Linked DNA regions of Homo sapiens: region 2 is linked to region 1. A link means that fine-mapping ties the variant in region 1 to the expression of a gene that starts in the linked region. Tissue or cell type: whole blood. Region 1 holds a variant in brackets; the other region holds the start of a gene. All regions are shown on one strand. Distances are between the middles of the regions.

Region 1 (8,043 bases):
CTCCTGTCCTCTCACCTACCCGCCCAGCAGGGCTCCTGGCCTCACCCTTACCCACTCCCTCCCATCACTGTAACCCAAACCCACATGCACCAAATCCTGGGAGGGGCTGCCCCCACCGCCCACCCCCAGTGTGGGGTTCTGAGCCACACCCTCCCCACAGACAGCCGCTCCGACCGCTGGTCCCAGATGCCAGCAAGCAGCGGCTGATGGAGAACACAGAGGACTGGCGGCCGCGGCCGGGGACAGGCCAGTCGCGTTCCTTCCGCATCCTTGCCCACCTCACAGGCACCGAGTTCAGTAAGTGCCAGCCCAGGGCAGGGGGTACTTTCCTCGCCCCCAGCCCAGGCGTGATCCCTGACCCTGTGTCTTTTTTGGTCAATGCCTGCCTCTGCCCTCTCAGTGCAAGACCCGGATGAGGAGCACCTGAAGAAATCAAGGTACAGGGACGGGCACCAGCCCCTCTCCCACCTCCTGCCTCTTCCATTCCAGCTACTGCCCTGTGTCTACTCCTGAGGCTCCCAGCTGGGGCTCTCAATTCTCCCTTCCTTCCTTCCTTCCTTCCTTCCTTCCTTCCTTCCTTCCTTCCTTCCTTCCCTTCCTCCTTCCTTCCTTCTTTCATTTCTTCCCTCCCTCCTTCCTTCCCTCCTCCCTCCCTGCCTCCCTTCCATCTCTCCTTCCTTCCACTTCTTCCTCCCTCTCTCTCTGCCCCTCAGGGAAAAGTATGTCCTGGAGCTGCAGAGCCCACGCTACACCCGCCTCCGGGACTGGCACCACCAGCGCTCTGCCCACGTGCTCAACGTGCAGTCGTAGCCCGGCCCTCTCCAGCCGGCTGCCCTCTCTGCCTCCCTCTTTCTGTTCCTCCTGCCCAGGGCACCCCCTTAGTGCCTCCAGCTTCTGCCTACCTCACCCCCCCTTTCGTGCCCCTGGCCTGAGCCTCCTGCTGGCCTGGCCCTGGCCGCCCACCTGGGTTCATCTGACACTGCCTTCCCTCTTTGCCCTGTGGTACTGCTGTCTGCCAGGTCTGTGCTGCCTTGGGCATGGAATAAACATTCTCAGCCCTGCTTGCTCTGCCTGTCTTCTATCTTTGTGGACCTGGTTTGCATTTGGGGTGTGGGGGTGTTTCGTGGTTCGGACTGTTTGGGCCCTGCCGTCCTCGTTTTCAGTGGGAGGGGGTACCTGGCAAAGGGGCCCTGCCCTGCCATCACAGATGGCTTCCTGGCATGAGGGGAACCCCAGGAGCTGCCTCAGAAGCGGGAGCCCTGCCTCGTCTCCCAGCTAGAGACCGCACACCAGCTAACTGGACATTGCTAGGAGAAGCTGCCCTTCCCATCCCTACCCCAGTGGGACCTGGAATCCAACTCGGCAGTTTCCACGCCCCCAGTCATCTCCCGTGGGGCCAGCAGGACCCAGGTTGGGGGGTGGGGCCATGTCAGGAAGCTCAGCCATGCAGGGCCTTGAATGGCAGATCTTGCAGCCAGGTGCCCAGGACAGAAGCCCCAGCCCCAGCCTCATCTACACCCCAGGAGCCCTGGCCTGGTGAGAGGGAGTGGGCTCGGGCCTGGGCAAGGGTGGGCAGCCTCCAGGGGCATGGGGGTGGTGGGCTTCTCTCAGCTGCCTGGGGCTCCACCCCCGTCCTTTGGGGTCCCTGGGCACCCCTTTAGAGTCACTTTCCCCGGCAGGCCCTACCGCCCCCAGCCCTACCAGCCGCCCGCCCTGGGCTGTGGACCCTGCGTTTGCCGAGCGCTATGCCCCGGACAAAACGAGCACAGTGCTGACCCGGCACAGCCAGCCGGCCACGCCCACGCCGCTGCAGAGCCGCACCTCCATTGTGCAGGCAGCTGCCGGAGGGGTGCCAGGAGGGGGCAGCAACAACGGCAAGACTCCCGTGTGTCACCAGTGCCACAAGGTCATCCGGTGGGTGGCCTGTTCCTGTCCGACCCTGGCTTTCCCATCCTGCAGCCCAGCCCCACCTGTCTGCCCACCTGTCTTGCCTCAGCTGCGACTGGGGGGAATAAGGATTCAGTTCTCAGCTGGAGTAGGAGTAGGGACCTGGGCTGGGTCCTCCCATTCTTAATCCCACGCTACCTACCCCAGCCCACCCACAACAACTGCTAGCAGCATCTGCCGTGGCGAAATAGCCGAAGGGCCAACCATAGGCTGAAGCTGCACCCCTACCTTTGCTGCTCTCTGGGCAAAGAGGGGCCTGCCCCCTCCCAGCGCGTCTGCCCCTCCCTCCTGCTCTCTGTCTCCCTCTGCTCTCAGAGCATACAGGCCTGGAGCCACTCCCTCTGTGCACTGCCCCGTGGGGCCAAGCAGCATCAAACACCCCCCAGCATCAGCGTGCCGGATTCTAGAGCCTTCCTAATTCGCAGGCCTGGCCTGCTCTCATCTCTGTCAGCTCTTTTTTTTTTTTTTTTGAAACAGAGTCTCACTGTGTTGCCCACGTTGGCGTGCAGTGGCGCGATCTCGGCTCACTGCAACCTCTGCCTCCTGGGTTCAAGAGATTCTCCTGCCTCAGCCTCCTGAGTAGCTGGGATTACAGGCACCCGCCACCATGCCTGGCTAATTTTGTATTTTTAGTAGAGACGGGGTTTTACCATGTTGGCCAGGCTGGTCTCAAACTCCTCACCTCAGGTGATCTCAGGCCTGCCTTGGCCTCCCAAAGTGCTGGGACTACAGGTGTGAGCCACTGTGCCCAGCCGACTCTATCAGCTCTTGCCAGGTAGAACAGGCAGGCCAGCAGGACAGGGCAGCTCCAGGGTTTGCCCAGGGGCGGCTCAGCTTTTATGAGGCTCCAGTCGTCAGCCCTTCCTCCCGGGGTCCTCCCTGCTCTAAAGCTGCCTCTCCTGTCACCAGCAGTTCAGTGTGGCGGACTGGCTCTGTAAGCTTCACGGCTGCCACGGTCACTTCCCAAGCCTGTCTTCTATCCTATGTGGAAAATGGGGAGAATGAACTGTCCCTCCCAAGGCCTCCTGGTGGGTGGTCAGTCAACCTGAAGGGGGCCAAGACCCCCACCTCTCTGCGTGTGCTCCCTCTGACCGCTCTCGCCTCCCTGCAGGGGCCGCTACCTGGTGGCGCTGGGCCACGCGTACCACCCGGAGGAGTTTGTGTGTAGCCAGTGTGGGAAGGTCCTGGAAGAGGGTGGCTTCTTTGAGGAGAAGGGCGCCATCTTCTGCCCACCATGCTATGACGTGCGCTATGCACCCAGCTGTGCCAAGTGCAAGAAGAAGATTACAGGCGTGAGTAGGGCTGGCTGGCGGGGAGGTGGTCCCAAGCCTGTCAGTGGGAACGAGGGCTGCTGGGAAACCCACAGTCCAGGTCTCTCCCCGAGTGAGCCCTCCGGGTCCTTACCAGCGTAATAAATGG[G/C]CTGCTGTACTGGCCTCACCCTGCATTAGTCAGGATGCTCTTAACAAATGACCATGTTCCTGCTCAGAAACCGCCCAAGGCTGCAAAGAGCAGGAGGACCAAGCCAGGAGAAGCCCTGGGCCCTCCTGACTCCCACTTTGGGCTCTCCCTGCCCTGGTGAAATGACAGAACGGCCAACTTGACACGCTGAAGCTGCTCTGTCTCATGCGTCCTCCTCATTTCTGGATCCAGAGCCAGGGCTGCCAGGAGTAGCCAGAGAGCTCTGTGTGGTGATGTTCATATTAGTGAGGTTTACCTTGACCACGAGCAGTGGGAAACTCAAAATAATGGTGGCTTATTTCTCATCTAAAAACATCCCGGGGTGGGTGGTCTGGGACTGATCTGGTGGACCCAGGCTCCGCCTTGTTGCTTGACTGTTGGCAGCACCTGCTTACTTACCACTCATGGTGCAAGATGACACTTCAGCCTCCGCCAAAATGCTCACCTTCCAGCCAGCAGGAAGTCGGAAGGAGAAGAAAGGGGACAGAGCCCCATGGCGTCCATCCTTAGAGGATGCTGCCACCTGAACCTCTGCTTTCATCCTGTTGGTCAGAACCCAGTCACATGACCACACCCAGTGGCAACGGAGGCTGGGAAATATAGTCTTTATTTTGGGCACCCATGTGTCCAGCAAAACTGGGGGTTCCATCAGTCGGCAAGAATGGGAGAGTGGCCGATGCAGTGGCTGATGCTTGTATCCCAGCACTTTGGGAGGTCGAGGTGGGCAGATCACCTGAGGTCAGGAGTTCAAGACCAGCCTGGCCAATATGGTGAAACCCTGTCTCTACTAAAAATAAAAAAATTAGCTGGGTGTGCTGGCGCACCTGTAGTCCCAGCTACTTGGGAGGCTGAGGCAGGAGAATCGCTTGATCTTGAGAGGTGGAGGTTGCAGTGAGCCAAGATTGTGCCACTGCCTTCCAGCCTGGGAGACAGCAAAAAAAAAAAAAAAAAAAAAAAAAAAAAAAAAAAAGGGCCAGGCACGGTGGCTCACACCTGTAATCCCAGCACTTTGGGAGGCCGAGATGGGCGGATCACGAGGTCAGGAGATTGAGACCATCCTGGCTAACACGGTGAAACCCCATCTCTACTAAAAATACAAAAAAATTGGCCGGGCATGGTGGAGTAGTCCCAGCTACTCGGGAGGCTGAGGCAGGAGAATGGCGTGAACCTGGGAGGCAGAGCTTGCAGTGAGCCGAGATCGCGCCACTGCACTCCAGCCTGGGCGACAGAGCGAGACTCTTGTCTCAAAAAGAAAAAAAGAAAGAGAAATCTGCCTCCCAGCCTTGGGCTCCTGCCCTACCAGCCCACACCCCTGGTAGAGCCCCCTCTCCCACCAGCTCAAAGCCCAAGTTCCTTCACTGTGACCTTGTCTGCTCCTCTAAAACAGGCAACACCAGACAGTGAGAAGAGCCAGCCAGACATGGGCAGAAAACCTATTTCTGTGATCTACTGGCTGTGTGAGCAGGGGCTAGTTGCTCTCTCTGGGCCTCACTGAAGAGAAGGGTGGCACTATGCTAGGGCCGGCACGGTTGCAAGGTAGATGTAAGATGGGGTACAGGTGTTGTGGAGGGCAGAAATGCACCATCCGAAGGCTACATGTCCCCCACACTTATGTCTTGCTTGGCCCACACTGTTTCATTTTAAAATCAGTAGCAAACAATTTAAAAAATCAGAAGATTTGCCTGCATGATGCAGTGGCTCATGCCTGTAATCCCAGCACTTTGGGAGGCCAAGGTGGGAGGATTGCTTGAGCCCAGGAGTTCAAGACCAGCATGGGCACCATAGCAAGACCCCTGTTTCTACAAAAAAAAAAAAATTAGAAAATTAGCCAAGTGTGGTGGCATGCACCTGTGGTCCCAGCTACTTGGGAGGCAGAGGGAAAGTGAGATCTCCTGCTTTTTATTTCTTTATGTATAATGATAGGGTCTTGCTCTGTTGCCCAGGCTGGAGTGCAGTGGCATGATCACTGCTCACTGCAGCCTTGATCTCCTGGGCTCAGAGGATCCTCCCACCTCAGCCTCCCAAATAGCTAGGACTAGAGGTGCCCACCAGCATGCTCAGCAGATTTTTAAATCTTTTTGTAGAGATGAGGTTTTGCTATGTTGCCCAGGCTGGTCTCGAACTCCTGGCCTCGAGCGATCCTCCCACCTTGGCCTCCCAAAGCACTGGGATTACAGACGTGAGCCACTGCGCCCAGCAGATTTCTCTTTAACACCTAGATTTCAGCCTGAGCCAGGCAGGCATTCCTGAATGAACCAGTAGTACTGCTCCCAGAAGAAGAGGTCCTCCTCCGTGTGACACAGTCCCCACTTGGCCCTTGCAGGGATTGGATCTGGGATCCCTGGATTTAAACTCAGGGCCATCCTCATAACAGCCTCACAAGGCTGGGATTAGCTTCCCAGTTCACAAGGGAAGAAACCAAGACTTGAGAAGGTCAAGGTCTGGCCAGACCCACACATCTTGGACCCTCATACCGCCTCGAGGCCCCATGCTGCCCTCTGCCTGCTCCAGATGTGAATACTGCTGGCCCTGGCTGGCCCCGGCTGGCCCCGAGGGTCCTAGGGATGAACAGCCCAGCCCAGGGAGAGCTCAGCCCCTTGTGCCTCTGCCCCTTCCCACCTCCTGCGGAGGCCAGTCGACTCACCCACAAAGGGCCAGGCACTGTGGGGATAGATCAGCTAACAAAACAGTTGATGCTTCCTGCCCTTCTGGGCCTTACATTTTGGCTGGAAGAAGAGGGGAGAGGCAGACTGTAAGCAATAAGCGCAATAAGTAGGTTGCCTGGAAGTAATGTTAGATCACGTTACGGAAAACAGGAAAGAGCAGAGCGACAAGTGCTGGGGTGCGTGGTGCAGGGAAGGCAGCTGGCTGCTGCTGGTGTGGTCAGAGTGGGCCCTCATGGAGAAGACTGCATTCGAGCAGAAACTTGAAGGGGGTGAGGGGTGAGCCTAGAGATATCTGGGGCAGAGCAGTCCAGGCAGAGGGGACAGCCGGTGTCAAGCCCAGGACAGGAGTGTGCCTGGTGTGCCAGTTTCAGGCAAGAGGCCAGTGTGCAGAGGCAAGGTGAGAACGCAAGGGAGAGCAGTGGCGGAGACGGTTGGGAACGAGGTCAGACCTGCTGGCCTCCAGCCTCTGCATGGGGCTTGGCTCTTGCTGGGAGCAATGGGAAGCAGTACACAGTTTCATGCAGGGGGAGAAGGCCTGTCTTGGGTTGCAGGGGCACGCTGTGGCAGCTGGGATCAGAGAGAGGAGCTTGTAGGCCAGTTGTTATGTGGTCCCACGGGCCAGATGGCCATGGCTTACCTCACTTCAGGGAGGCTGTGAGAAGCACTCAGAATCTGGATGTGCCTTGGGGGTGGGCCCCACTGGATTTCCTGGTGGACCTGGTGTGGGGTGTGAGAGGAGGGTGTGTTTGGCTGCAGCAGACAGGAGAATGGAGTTGCCATCCGCGTGATGGGGATGGCTGTGGGAGGAGAGGTTTGGGGTGAGGGAATCAGGAACTGAGTGCTGGACATGGCAAGTCTGAAGGCGCAGTGGTCGTCCACTCAGAGACCTTGGAGTTGGAGATGGAGGTGTGGGAGTCCTGAACAGTTAGATGTAGTGTTTACCGCGAGAAGGAACAGGGCTTGCGGCCAGCCCTCCTGTGTTCCCGTGACCCAGGGCAGGGCAGGAGGGGCCTGAGCCTGCCGAGTGACTGGGACCTCCTTCCAGGAGATCATGCACGCCCTGAAGATGACCTGGCACGTGCACTGCTTTACCTGTGCTGCCTGCAAGACGCCCATCCGGAACAGGGCCTTCTACATGGAGGAGGGCGTGCCCTATTGCGAGCGAGGTACCCACTGGCCAGTGAGGGTGAGGAGGGATGGTGCATGGGGCAGGCATGAATCCAGGTCCTCTTTCTCTCTGCCCCCATTCTCAGACTATGAGAAGATGTTTGGCACGAAATGCCATGGCTGTGACTTCAAGATCGACGCTGGGGACCGCTTCCTGGAGGCCCTGGGCTTCAGCTGGCATGACACCTGCTTCGTCTGTGCGGTGAGAGCCCCGCCCCTCGAACTGAGCCCCAAGCCCACCGGCCCTCTGTTCATTCCCCAGGAGATGCAGGAGAAGTTGGGAAGGGGCCTCTCCTGCTGCCCCCAACCCCATGTGACTGGGCCTTTGCTGTCCTTAGATATGTCAGATCAACCTGGAAGGAAAGACCTTCTACTCCAAGAAGGACAGGCCTCTCTGCAAGAGCCATGCCTTCTCTCATGTGTGAGCCCCTTCTGCCCACAGCTGCCGCGGTGGCCCCTAGCCTGAGGGGCCTGGAGTCGTGGCCCTGCATTTCTGGGTAGGGCTGGCAATGGTTGCCTTAACCCTGGCTCCTGGCCCGAGCCTGGGGCTCCCTGGGCCCTGCCCCACCCACCTTATCCTCCCACCCCACTCCCTCCACCACCACAGCACACCGGTGCTGGCCACACCAGCCCCCTTTCACCTCCAGTGCCACAATAAACCTGTACCCAGCTGTGTCTTGTGTGCCCTTCCCCTGTGCATCCGGAGGGGCAGAATTTGAGGCACGTGGCAGGGTGGAGAGTAAGATGGTTTTCTTGGGCTGGCCATCTGGGTGGTCCTCGTGATGCAGACATGGCGGGCTCATGG
Region 2 (8,046 bases), 22 kb before region 1:
CCCCATGCCCCTGGCCACCCCAACCCACTGCTCATACTTTGTGGGCTGTGTCTCAGTTGCTCAGCTTCCCCAGACCCCATGCCCCTCAGCCCAGCCCTGTGTGCCCTTGGTCGCAGCCCCCCTCTTCCTCAGGGCCAGCGACAGACCCTGCTCTTCAGTGCCACCATGCCGAAGAAGATTCAGAACTTTGCTAAGAGTGCCCTTGTAAAGCCTGTGACCATCAATGTGGGGCGCGCTGGGGCTGCCAGCCTGGATGTCATCCAGGTGGGCAGGTGCTCCTGATGGGCGGTCTCTCACCTGTGGGGGCTGGATCTGACAAGTCTCCCTGAAGCTGATTGGAGCCGGGGGTCCACCTTGTGGGAACCGGGGGTTTCATTCAAAGCCCCTGACGCTTAACCAGGGCCATTTTTAGGGCACCAGCCCTTGGCGGCCAGAGGCTTCTGGTCACCTCCTGGTCCAGATGACGGGCCATGGCAGGGCTGTGGCGGGTAAGCCTAATCTCAAGATCACCTGACCTGATCTTTGTGGTGGCAGGAGGTAGAATATGTGAAGGAGGAGGCCAAGATGGTGTACCTGCTCGAGTGCCTGCAGAAGACACCCCCGCCTGTGAGTGCAGCCAGGCCAGGCCGGGGCCAGAGTCCCCAGGACCAGGGAGGGCTTTGGAGGGGACAGAGTGCCAGGGGAGGTGCGGTGGGTGCCCAGGCAGTTAGCCCCTGACTGGAGTTGGTCTTTCCGGACAGGTACTCATCTTTGCAGAGAAGAAGGCAGACGTGGACGCCATCCACGAGTACCTGCTGCTCAAGGGGGTTGAGGCCGTAGCCATCCATGGGGGCAAAGGTCAGGGTGGTGCAAGCACTGGCTTGGACCCTGCTGCAGTAGCAGTGCTTTACCTAATGCCTTCCCCTGCCTGGTTGGCCTGCCACTCCCCTGTCCCATGGTGGCTCTGACAGTGTCTGCCTGACCCTCCCCAGACCAGGAGGAACGGACTAAGGCCATCGAGGCATTCCGGGAGGGCAAGAAGGATGTCCTAGTAGCCACAGACGTTGCCTCCAAGGGCCTGGACTTCCCTGCCATCCAGCACGTCATCAATTATGACATGCCAGAGGAGATTGAGAACTATGGTAAGAGCCTGGGGCCCAAGGGCATGGGTTAGGCCGGAAAAGGGCCAAGCCAGGCCCCTAGTGTCCAGCGATGGGCCAGAGACTCTGTCCTTCTCTCTGCAGTACACCGGATTGGCCGCACCGGGCGCTCGGGAAACACAGGCATCGCCACTACCTTCATCAACAAAGCGTGTGGTGAGTCTGTTACCAGCGCCACCTTAGCTGTTCCCTGGGTCCCCTGCCTGTGGCCACCCAGGTTCTGGCCACAGAGCCCAGGATGGGCCCTGATGCTTCCCCACTCCTCCCCCAGATGAGTCAGTGCTGATGGACCTCAAAGCGCTGCTGCTAGAAGCCAAGCAGAAGGTGCCGCCCGTGCTGCAGGTGCTGCATTGCGGGGATGAGTCCATGCTGGACATTGGAGGTGACTGCAGAGCGGGATCCCCGAGTCCCCAGCCGGCAGGTGGCAAGGAGGGGTGCTGGAAGTCAGAAACGTGAAACCGGTGGACCGAGGGTGCCTAACGGGGGGCCCGAAGTCCAGGGCATGGATCCTGGTCCTTGACTTGGCTGACCCCTGTCCCCATTCCCCCAGGAGAGCGCGGCTGTGCCTTCTGCGGGGGCCTGGGTCATCGGATCACTGACTGCCCCAAACTCGAGGCTATGCAGACCAAGCAGGTCAGCAACATCGGTCGCAAGGACTACCTGGCCCACAGCTCCATGGACTTCTGAGCCGACAGTCTTCCCTTCTCTCCAAGAGGCCTCAGTCCCCAAGACTGCCACCAGTCTACACATACAGCAGCCCCCTGGACAGAATCAGCATTTCAGCTCAGCTGGCCTGGGATGGGCCAGGCTGGTCCTGGCTGCCTGTTCCCTGTGCTCTTCAGAATTACTGTTTTTGTTTCCTTTTACCCCAGCTGCCATTAAAGCCCAAACCTCTAGCCCAGCCCTGGCCCTGCCTCTGTGTTTCACCTCATCCGCCCCCTGGTTCCTGGACAGACGTCACCTCTGACCTCTGGAGCCCCTCTGAGGCAAGGCCCCAGCATCTCCCACTAGCACTGCCAACACCTGGCCTGCTGGTACTTGGCTGTGGAAGGAGCCACCGAGCTGGTGCCCGCCTCTGGGGACTCTGGGTCTCTCCACTGGGTTGTCTGAATTTATGACTCAAGGAGGGACCACATTGGCGGGCCAAGGAGAAGTGCTTGGATTCTCTGGTCTCCCTGGCCAGCTGTCATAGCTCTCAGGCCCACTCTTCCTGTCAGGGCTGTGATGTTTCAGGGACTTCTCCTGAAGCCCCTTGGGAGGCTGCTTCTTGCCTCAGGACCCCCACCCACTGCCTGCCTGTGCCAGCCACCTGGAGGGAGCCCTCCATTCCGTTGACTGAGGAGGCAGCAGATGTCATAGAACTGCCATTTAGGCCACAAGCTCTCCCTAAGCCTGCTCTGTGCCCAGCTCTGCTGAGCTGTGAGGACCTAGATGGGCCAGGGAGATGGCTGCCTGGGAAGCCGTCAGGCGAGGGGAGAGAAAGACGCACACGCAGAAACGTGGACGGCAGTCACAAGACCGCTAGCAGATGAGGCAGGATCTCAGCATCTGGTGAGAGGTAGGCAGGGACGGCACAGGCGGCCACACTTCCTCTGAGCCAGGCACTTTGCATGTATGGCCACATGCTCATTCCAGTGAGACAGCGGTTGCTCAAGCCATATTTGTCACTTGATATGTGGCATTGGGCAAGTTACTTAATTTTTCTGAGCACCGATTTCCTCACTGTTGAAATGGCGATGAGAACGCAAAGGATGTGGCGTCTGAGGTGGACGGAGCTTAGGGCTGCTTGGGCCACAGTGGGCACAGAGCTGGGTGCCAGGAGGCCTTCAGGACATATTTCCTGGCCAAGTGCATTCCCAAATGGCATTCCTTATCCTCTTCCATGTTCTCTCCCAGAGGTGGTGCTGAATGACCTGAGGCTGTTCCAGAATAAAGGTATACACACAGCCCCGCTATTGGCATCTTGCTAGGCAAGCCAACAAAAGGCGCCCCCAGCAGGAAGCAAAGCTTTAAATGAACATGTGACCTCTCCGGGGCCCCCTGGGACCTGCCACCCACACTCACGTGGTTGGGGCCATTCAGGGCTGTGGGTCCCATGTGGACTGGATGCCCAGCGTGAGTGTATACCGTGAGGGCCTTTGAGCTCTCGGACAGCGTGGAGTGGTCAAGGGAGGCCTCCAGGAGGAAGAGGTGGCCAACCGCCCCAGGCAGCACAGTGGTGAGGGGGCCCTGGAGGGGCTGGCCTGGGGGAGATGCAGGCCAGAACACACAGGTCCCTGAGTGTTGGGCTGAGGAGCCTGGGCTGCACCCCAGGAAGGGGAGAGACAGGTTGGTCTTGGGTTGTGGAGAGTGCTGCATGGAGGCCCAGTGGGGCAGTGGCCCCTGGGGGGATGCCAAAGGCTGGTGATGTTCAGTGGCTCGTGAGGTGGAGAGGAGCAGGTGAACACGAGAGAGATTTCAGGGAGAAAGAAAAGCAGCAAGATGGGGTGAGGCGCTCAAACCAGGACGCCGAGTGGGAAAGCCAGGAGTTGGCTAGAGAAGGGTCCTGGGTGGAGGCAGGGCCAGGGAGTGTCAGGCCCAGGGTGCGCAGCTGCCCGGGGCGGGACGGGGGAGGGGCGGGAACTCATGACTCGGGGAGCCAGACTGCGATCAGACGCGCGTGCCCAGCTGAACCAGGTGCGTGAGAAGGCTGCCTTCAGGTGGCCGGGGGCTCCCTCCAGGTAGGTGTGGGCACCTTGGGCAGCCAGAACCCCAGGGAGGAAATACATGCTGCCCCCAGCCCCTGAGCTGAAGACAGGCTCCCCTCCCCCCGGCCTGCAGCTGTCTCTAGACGGAGGGACGGGAAGTGGCCAGAAGGGGAAGTGTGAGGAGTTCCCGTCCAGCCTGTCATCAGTCTCCCCAGGTCTTGAAGCGGCGGCCCTGCTCCTGGCCGTGACCATGGACCCTCTGGAGACCCCTATCAAGGATGGCATCCTCTACCAGCAGCATGTCAAGTTTGGCAAGGTGGGGACCCCTGGCTGCCAGGCAGCTGCCAAGGACCAACAGTGGGTGGAGAATGCAGCCTCTGCCCCTGCCTCGGACAGCCCAGGCAGACCTGGGAGACTTGGGAAGGGAGTCAGGGTGGAGGATCCCACCCAGGTATGGGGAGTGGAATGGAGTGCGGGTGTCAGCCTGAGACGGCAGGGGCTGAGCAGGCTCTGCCAGACCCTGCCTCCGGGAGAGATGGGAAATACAGGAGTGGGAGAGGGTCGAAGGCTCAAACCTCCCAGCAGGGAAGAGCTTCACAGCCTCTGACCCATGAAATAGTGCCACCGAGGGCCCTAAATAGGGTGAGGGGCTGAGCTGGAGGAGGCCTCAAGGGTGGAGCCCCTCCCTGCAGCGGCACTGTCCTGGGAGCAAGGAGGCAGGGGGTCACCTCTCCTCGGCAGCAGCCCCACACCCCCGCAGCTCAGCTGCAGCTGCTGCCCAGGCAGATAAACCGTCAGTTTCCTTTGCTCGAAGCTATTTGCATGTTTCCTTCCTTAACAGCTTGAGGCAGAGGCCTCCCTCCCACCCCAGCTCTTGGCCTGTGGCCCAAGTGCCCCTTTTTGGGGGTGAGAGGGAACCAATATAATGGCAGTGTCTGGTGGTCTGCCCGGCCACTGGATGCTTTACAAACATGACCCAGTAGCAGTCCCAGCTCGAGTTCTCATGGCCTTTTGAGAGACGACATTGATGCTTGTGGAGGTCACAGTTAGGAAAGAGCGGGCTGGGATTTGAACCCAGGGCTGACCAATCCCAAGCATAGCCAAGGCCTCCTTACCTGGCTCCCTGAGAAACTGGGGAGCAGAGGCCCGCTCCTGGCTGGGAGCGTTTGCCGAGCAGCTTGTGCTGAGCCAAGTGGCACGGACAATCTGCCACCCAAGGGTCTTCACCCTCCCGCTCCCCTCCCGCAGAAGTGCTGGCGGAAGGTGTGGGCTCTGCTGTATGCAGGAGGCCCATCAGGCGTGGCACGGCTGGAGAGCTGGGAGGTCCGGGATGGTGGCCTGGGAGCAGCGGGTGACAGGTCGGCAGGGCCTGGCCGGCGAGGGGAGCGACGGGTCATCCGCCTGGCTGACTGTGTGTCCGTGCTGCCGGCTGACGGCGAGAGCTGCCCCCGGGACACCGGTGCCTTCCTGCTCACCACCACCGAGCGAAGCCATCTACTGGCTGCTCAGCACCGCCAGGCCTGGATGGGCCCCATCTGCCAGCTGGCCTTCCCGGTGAGTGCGGCGAGCAGGGGGGCGATTGGGCTGGGGCACCTGCCCCCGACTTGTCCACCTCCACGCTCACATCCCATCACCCAGCAAGCTCCACCGAGCACCTACAAGCCTGGGAAAAGTAAATCTATAATGACTCTCAGAGGGCCGTGCGTGCCATGGAGAAAATGGACCGCCAGGGGAGCAGGAGGAAGTGAGGGAGCGACGGGCAGGGTGGCCAGGGAAGGCCTCTCAGAGGAGGGCCCTGAATGACAGGAACCCACTGGGCAAAGGTCTGAGGACAGGGGCAGCCTGGGGAGTTGTGAACAGAGGGAGTCCCGTGGGCAGAGGCCCCGAGGCCGGACAGTGTGGGGTGTTTAAGGGCAGAAAGAAGGCGACGTGGCTGGAAGGAAAGGAGTGCAGGAGGAAGCCAACTCACAGAGCTTAGGAGAGCGGCTGAAATGCCCTAGGCCATGTGTGTGGTTTTGTTCTGAGTGAGAGGCGAAGGCTTTGGAGGGTTTAAGCCGGACATGTTTGTAAAGCCCCAAAAGGTCTGTGATGGGTCAAAAGGAAGTGAGCCTGGGGGTTCTTCAAAGAGGTAAACAGAGTTACCATGTGGCCCACAGGTCCACTCCTAGGTGTGTGCCCAAGAGAACTTGAACAGGTGTTCAAACAAAACATGTACATGTGAGGCAGGAGGATCGCATGAGCCCCAGAGGTCGAGGCTGCAGTGAGCTGTAATCGTGCCACTTCACTCCAGCCCGGGAGACAGAGCAAGACCCTATCTTAAAAAAAAACCCACATGGACATGAACGTCCATAGCAGCACTACTCACAGCCACCAGAAGGTGGAAACAGCCTACATGGCCATCAGCTGACAAATGGATAAGCAAAACGTGGTCCGTCCGCAAGATGGAATACTACTCAGCCATAAAAACAAACAAACGCCTGGCACAGTAGCTCTTGCCTGTAATCTTAGCACTTTGGGAGGCTGAGGTAGGAGGATTGCTTGAGCCTAGGAATTCAAGATCAGCCTGGGCAACATAGTGAGACCCTGTCTCAAAAAAAAAAAAGAAAAGAAGAAAGAAAGAAATGTACAGACAAGGTAACTCCATTGGGATAGAAATCAGATGAGTGTTGGCAGGAGCTGGAGGAAGGGAGAAGTGGGGAGTGGCTGCTCATGGGTACAGGGCTTCCATGTGGGATGATGGAAAAGTTCTGGAACTAGACAGTGGCAACAGTGCACAGCCTTGTGAGTATACTAAAAAGCACTGGTGGCCGGGTGCGGTGGCTCAGGCCTATAATCCCAGCACTTTGGGAGGCCGAGGCGGGCGGATCACCTGAGGTCAGAAGTTCGAGACCAGCCTCAACATGGAGAAACCCCGTCTCTACTAAAAATACAGAAGTAGCTGGGCATGGTGGTGCATGCCTGTAATGCCAGCTACTCGGGAGGCTGAGGCAGGCAGAATTGCTTGAACCTGGGAGGCAGAGGTTGCGGTGAGCCGAGATCATGCCATTGCACTCCAGCCTGGGCAACGAGAGCAAAACTCCGTCTCAAAAAAAAAAAAAAAAAAAAGAAAAGAAAAAAAAGAGCACTGATGATACACTTTAAGATGTAAAATGGGCCGGGCGTAGTGGTTCACACCTGTAATCCCAGCACTTTGGGAGGCCGAGGCAGGCGGATTACCTGAGGTCAGGAGTTCGAGACCAGCCTGGCCAACATGGTGAAACCCTATCTCTACTAAAAAAAAATTACAAAAATTAGCTGGGTGTGGTGGCACACGCCTGTAATCCCAGCTACTACTTGAGAGGCTGAGGCAGCAGAATTGCTTGAGTCTGGGAGGCAGAGGTTGCAGTGAGCTTAGATCGCACCACTGCATTCCAGCCTGGCCGACAGAGCAAGACTTTGTCTCAAAAAAAAAAAAAAAAGTAAGATGGTTAAAACAGTAAATTTTATGTTCTCTGTATTTTATCATATTTTAAAAATCAAAAAACAAAAGGCAGTTGAGGTTAGGCATGGAGGTTCGTGCCTGTAATCCCAGCACTTTGGGAAGCCGAAGCACGTGGATCACCTGAGGTCAGGAGTTCGAGACCAGCCTGCCCAATATGGTAAAACCCTGTCTCTACTAAAAATACAAAAAATTAGCCAGGCATGGTGGTGGGCACCTGTAATCCCAGCTACTTGGGAGACTGAGGCAGGAGAATCACTTAAACCCGGGAGGCGGGCTGGGCGCGGTGGCTCATGCCTGTAATCCCAGCACTTTGGGAGGCCGAGACAGGCGGATCATGAGGTCAGGAGATCGAGATCATCCTGGCTAACATGGTGAAACCCCATCTCTACTAAAAATACAAAAAAAATTAGCCAGGCCTGGTGGCGGGCACCTGTAGTCCCAGCTACTTGGGAGGCTGAGGCAGGAGAATGGCGTGAACCTGGGAGGCGGAGCTTGCAGTGAGCCAAGATCGCGCCACTGCACTCCAGCCTGGGCGACAAGAGTGAGACTCCATCTTAAAGAAAAAAAACAAACCCGGGAGGCGGAAATTGCAGTCAGCCGAGATCTCGCCATTGCACTCAAGTATGGGTGACAGAGCAAGACTCCATGTCAAAAAAAAAGGCAGTTGACAGGAGCAAGGAGCCTGGTGAGGAAGCTGTGGCATTTGACCCGGCTGTGTTGCTATGGGCCAGGGTGGTGC

Evidence for each region. PIP is the estimated chance that this variant, and not a neighbour inherited with it, causes the effect.
Region 2: it holds the start of DOK3, and the variant in region 1 is fine-mapped to the expression of DOK3 in whole blood (TOPMed, PIP 0.93).

The regions. Positions count from the first base shown.
Region 1 is chr5:177,483,264-177,491,306 of GRCh38, reverse strand. PDLIM7 (PDZ and LIM domain 7) reads left to right here. Exons shown (of 13, transcript NM_005451.5): 6 at 161-297; 7 at 401-437; 8 at 1,475-1,536; 9 at 1,680-1,914; 10 at 3,059-3,239; 11 at 7,117-7,237; 12 at 7,325-7,440; 13 at 7,577-7,913. The coding sequence ends at 7,663. Among named protein-coding and RNA genes, the nearest start is that of PDLIM7, 10 kb to the left of the region's middle. RefSeq lists enhancers at 1-533, 5,860-6,575, 6,576-7,291. The variant G/C (reference allele first, on the strand shown) is at 3,367.
Region 2 is chr5:177,505,571-177,513,616 of GRCh38, reverse strand. It overlaps DOK3 (docking protein 3), which reads left to right and starts at 3,791. Exons shown (of 6, transcript NM_001308236.3): 1 at 3,791-3,859; 2 at 3,960-4,142; 3 at 5,075-5,380. The coding sequence starts at 4,077. DDX41 (DEAD-box helicase 41) reads left to right here. Exons shown (of 17, transcript NM_016222.4): 11 at 133-264; 12 at 535-606; 13 at 741-837; 14 at 972-1,121; 15 at 1,224-1,295; 16 at 1,411-1,521; 17 at 1,690-2,040. The coding sequence ends at 1,826. RefSeq lists enhancers at 3,386-3,535, 5,356-5,405, 5,426-5,535 and a silencer at 3,666-3,805.